Regions from separate parts of the Homo sapiens genome. Here region 2 is linked to region 1. The links come from fine-mapping of genetic effects on gene expression. Tissue or cell type: nasal epithelium. Region 1 holds a variant in brackets; the other region holds the start of a gene. All regions are shown on one strand. Distances are from middle to middle.

Region 1 (2,756 bases):
AGGCAAAGAATGAGAACTAGACCAGCAGATCCATAAATGCAGCGGGAGAGAGAGGCAAAGGGGGAAATGGTGCATCTGTCCTTCGCGCCCCCATCCCCATCGCTGGCTCCTCCATCACAGCAGACTTCTGTCGCCACCAGCACAACATTAAAAGGAAGAACTGGGGACCTAGGGACCTGGGAGGAGAGAGGTCAGAGCAGATACAAGACAAGTCTCCTGGGTCTGCATCAGGTAAGTGGTAAATCTGCAGGCGACATACTGCCCAAATCTAAAAATAACAAACAGACATTTCTAAAACCATAATTTGGTACGTCCAAGGGTTCCTACGCTTGAAGTGCCTGACCTCGGCACTTGCAGCACCTCATCTGGCCTGGATGTGCTTCCAAGTTCCCACTTGCTCCCTCAACTCCTCCCATCTCTGTCCCCTGCCCTGGGAATGCCAGGCTGGGCCAGAGTCTGGGCCCGTGCCCTGAGCACCATGCTCAGAAGGCACTGCTCACACCTTCTCTAGCCACACCATGTCATAGGGCAGAGTTCACAGGGCCCCCAAGACATGTTCACCTGGACACCACCCCACCTTCTGGGTCACACTCCAGGTCTCCCTGGGCCTGCTGCTTTACCTGCCAGTGTCCATTTTCTCAAGGGTGAAGCACTTCACCAGTTTGCATAAGAGAGGTTGTCTGCAGAGGTGTAGACAGACTTGGGACCTGTGGCCAGGGATGTCTCCCTGTACCACAGAAAGATTTTGGACAAGAAACTTGAGGAGTCTGAGAATTCTACATTGGAGCCTGGCTTCCAGGTTGTTGTGAAGGTCGTGTTTATTTACCAGGATGGCAGTATAGGACCTGATTTTTAGAGAGCTTGACTTAGAACTTGGAAACAGCTACTTAGACACATGGAATGTGAGCCTCTGTTTGTACTCCTGCCTCGGGTCCAGCAAGTGTTAGGAGCGAGCCTGTCTCTCCTCTCCCTGCTTTGGGCCGCTAGGCAATGTGCCCAGAAGGTCTAATCAGAGTGTTTGCTAATGAGTTGGCAAGCTCACTTACCTCCCTTCCTAGGGCTCTTCTTAATTAGAAACAAAACAGCTCCCAGCACTCCCCAAACAGAAAGTTGCAGCAAATTTCACACCCAATAAAGGAAACTTCCCTCTGCCACTCACCCACACACGAGATCAAAAAGATGACACCTGTTGTCACCCCTGCCCGGGGACGTATGGTCTTTCCCGGTCTTTGCTGTCAGTACTCTACTCCCAGGGTTTCCACCTAAGGAGAGCACTCACTGATGTACACTGGGACTTCAGAGCCCAAAGATTGTGTAAAATATTCAGGCAACAACAGCCAAAACCACAAGGAAGCCATTGACACAAGTCTTGGGTTACTCACCTCCGTGCAATTCGGGGCCACACCAATGCACAGCCTGAGCAAGGCTGCGGATCCC[A/G]GAACAAGCCCGTCTGCCCAAGTTTGAGGTCTGGTTTTAAGCAGCCTTTCCGGCCAGCACAGATAACACTATCCTGTTCTGCAATCAGGGCCAGGACACTGCAGTCAGCAGCCCTCACAGGTCCAACTGCAGACCGCTGTCAAGCAACCCCATGACCATATATGAAATCCCAATTACCTGTACTTATCCATCGCTAGTTCACTTCGCTGCAGTCCTTCGTAAACCAAAGAGCAGGTAGAACGAGTTCACCCTGAACACAGCATCCCTTTAAATGACCCTGGAGACCGTGATTTGCCATTGCCAGACAGGATGGACGGGAACAGATAGGCAACTGTGTGCGATCACAGGACATAATGGAATGAAATGTCAGATCAGGTGTTAGGATTTGATCTGTGCTATGGTTCAATCTGTGCTACAGAGTTCACACTTGGTCAGGCTTTTCCACGATGTGTAAAATTCTACAAGGTCTGTGCGGCATCACCTTTACTCTACTTTGCTCAACCACGATCACTGTGATTAGGAAGCCTGCCTATAGCCACATGACCCTCGCCACCTCCCACAGCCTGGGGGCCAGTTGTCATGGCATTTTATCAGGATCTTGGTCATGAGAAACCACTCTAAAAATGGGTTTCAGAAAGTAGAAGCAAGGCAAAAAAAGCTCTGACAATTTAAAAACCATTAGAATTACTAAGAGTTTGGTAAGGTGTCAAGTTCTTTTAAAAATAGCCTTTCCACACACCAATGGCAGCCAGTTAGAAAAGATTGTGGAAGAGGGCTATACAGTCCCTTTCGTAACTGATATTAAAAATAACTACCTAGAACTGAACATTAAAAATTTGCCAAAAACACACAAAAAATACCAAGCACATGAAAGGAAAATGGAATAGACAGACCATATACCTGGAAAGTAATTTATTATATAGATCTCAAGTCTTTCAAAATTTATGTAAAATGAATATTAATCTAATTAAATCCCAAAAGGATTTTTTCTACAGCTTGGCAAAAATGATTCTTAAGCTTTCATAGTGTAATAAATGTAAGAAAAGTCAAGAAAGTATTTTTTTTTTTAAGGAAAAGCTATTGAGGGACAGAGGGCAAGACCACATTCTACCAAATATAAAAATATGTAGTAAGGCCAGGAGTGGTGGCTCATGCCTGTAATCCCAGCACTTTGGAAGGCCAAGGCAGGTGGATCATCTGAGGTCAGGAGTTCAAAACCAACATCCCCAACATGGTGAAACCCCGTCTATACTAAAAATATAAAAATTAGCCGGGTATGGCGGCACACACCTGTAATCCCAGCTACTTGGGAGGCTGAA
Region 2 (2,501 bases), 74 kb after region 1:
TATTTTGATATTGTATTATGTGGAGTACATATGGTGTGGCAGCTCAAGGCAGACGAATTATTAAATATGTACGGTGATCTTACAATGGGTATGGCCCGTCTCTTGCTTTCTAGGAATTGACCATCTTCCGGCAGCCCAACACCTAGTCCCCTGTGTATTATGCACTATTACAAAACGTGTTCAAGTCGCCTTTTATGCCTAAGGCTTACATAAAAATTCATCTTGCCTTTCTGCGTCTATTTCCAAGTTTGAAGGACCTTTCTCCCTCCAATTAGCAACATTTCAGCACTGCACAGGGCTTATTAATGCTCACTGTTGCAAGTAACACCAAGGTAATTTGACTTTCTTGTAGGAACAATGTCGACGAAATCCTACAGAATTAAATTTAAATTTCCAGTTTAAAAAAAAAAACCGTGAAAGAACACTTCATTACCTTTATTATCTAGACGTATCTAATGACGTTAAGTAAAAACTGCACCAAGGCTTTGAAACCAGAAGAAAAGTGGAGTTTGTGAAATTTAACCACTCCATGCTTTTTATTAGTATTTCACTTATGAGTATTTCCCGAGGCTCACTGTTTTGGCAGGCACAGTGCTGTTAACATCTCTTCCTTTCTCACCATTCTTTGCTCATCGATGAAAAGATAACTTCAAAATCTCTGACAGGAATGCAGGTGCAGGAAGTGCGACGGAAACAAACAACTTTGCCTCCGCTTCCTACAGCTTTCCTCTCCTCCCCGCCCTTCTAGCCCCCATCCCACCCCAAGATCATGCCCTCGAACAGCTTCTGCCCACCGATCGCACGTCCCCTGGGCATGTTCGGGCAGCGGTGACCCTCAGCCACATCCCCCACTAGCCCGGTCCCGGGCAGGCGAGCGCGCTGCCCACCGGCCACCCTCGTCACGCCCCCTCCACCCTCTCCATCCCAGCCACAATAATACAATAACCGCAGTCATCGCGCGGCACGTGGAAAGGCTACTTTTCAGTGGGTTTTGCAGAAAGCAATCAGACAGCGGAAGGCCACGAGAAACGCTGGTGAAGCCAAACCGACCCCGGGAGCGCAGCGGCCCCGGACCCTCCCTGGAAGCTCCCTCCGCGTCCCCGCGCGCCCACCTGGAGGCGCCGCGCCCTCCGCCTGCCAAGCCGGTCCCCGGCCCCTGCCCGTGCCCTGGGCCCCCGGCGGGCAGCGGCGGAGGGAGGCCAGGCGCGGCACCGTCCTCCGCAGCTGCACGAGCCACCCCGAGGTCGCGGGGTGGGCGGGCGCGAGCTAGGCGCGCGGGGCTGTGGGGATCTGCCGGCGCCACTGACGCCCCCGCGCGGCACACCGCGCCCGGCTGGCCCGGGAGGGGACCCGACTCACCCGAAGCGCCCTGCTAGCTGCCCGGCCCGGCTCCGGCCGCTGCCGCCGTCGCTGAACTTTCCCTCCTGCGCGGCCGCCGCGGACTCGGCTCCACCTCCCGCTCCGGCAGCCGCGGAGCCTCCAGGGACCCCGGGGGCGGGGAGCAGCGGCGGCGGCGGCGGCTCGGGCGGGCGGGCGCAACAGCGGCCAAGCCTGGCGCCCCGCCGCAGGGTAGGTCCGGCGGGGGCGGCCAAGGCCGGGCTGGGGTCGCGGTTGGCCGCGTACCTCCGCGTCACCCACGGCCTCTCTGCAGTGCGTCCCTGCGCCCGTCGGAGCGGCGCCCTGGCCGAAGCCTGTCACTCTCGGAAGGGGCCGCGCTCGGACACCAGGGGCGGTTTACGCGTGACTGGACACCAAGAGCCGGAGAAGTTTAGAGACTAGGACACTGTGGCGTGGCCCGAGTTGCAGGAGAGAGGTGTCCAATCTCCATGGGGTCCTTACTCTTGCAGGACAGAGTTCCCCATCCCCCTGCTCCACCCGCTCTGTTCCCTTGGCTGCCCTCCCCGCCGAGCGCCGACTTCCATGCAAAAACTTTGTAAATCGCACTTCGGGGAATTCACGCTTTAGTCGCGGTCTCTGCTGCCCTGGTCAGCTATAACGCCTCCCCTAGAGAGCTTTTACTTACAGCGAAGGTCAGGAACCCCTGTAACTCTCACACCGCACCACTGTGGGTAAGCGATGTCTGCAGGGACCCCTGACGGCCACTGGGAGGCCAGGAGAGAAGAGGGAGAGGAAAGGCTAAAAAGGCAAGTGGAGTGTTGGGTAATAAAAGATCCACCGCCACCTCCAGCACACACAGGCAGGCACCCTCCAGGGCCACAGGTCGCCTTTTATCTGTAAGTGCTCCAGCGCATCTCTGTGGGAGAGGGAGTTGGGAAATAGGATCGCCAATTTTCAGTGTAATTGAGGGGGACTCAGGAGGAGTCAGTTAGACTGGAAGAGGTCATCACCTGCAGATGCGGTTAAGCAACTTGCAGAGGCCCCAGGGCTGAGCCACCGCAGAACCGGAGCTGGAAACCAGTCCTATGACTCCTGAGGCAGTGCTCTTTCTACTACCTGGCCATGGCTCCTTCTACTGCCTGGCTCAGAGTCTCCATCTGGGA

The links. PIP is the estimated chance that this variant, and not a neighbour inherited with it, causes the effect.
Region 2: CSGALNACT1 starts here. The variant in region 1 is fine-mapped to the expression of CSGALNACT1 in nasal epithelium (TOPMed, PIP above 0.99). The same link has a PIP of 0.9 or more in whole blood.

The regions. Positions count from the first base shown.
Region 1 is chr8:19,681,314-19,684,069 of GRCh38, forward strand. The region is part of intron 1 of CSGALNACT1 (chondroitin sulfate N-acetylgalactosaminyltransferase 1); the gene reads right to left. The region is part of intron 1 of CSGALNACT1-AS1 (CSGALNACT1 antisense RNA 1); the gene reads left to right. Among named protein-coding and RNA genes, the nearest start is that of CSGALNACT1-AS1, 4.1 kb to the left of the region's middle. The variant A/G (reference allele first, on the strand shown) is at 1,438.
Region 2 is chr8:19,755,827-19,758,327 of GRCh38, forward strand. CSGALNACT1 (chondroitin sulfate N-acetylgalactosaminyltransferase 1) reads right to left here and starts at 1,451. Exons shown (of 9, transcript NM_001354483.2): 1 at 1,360-1,451.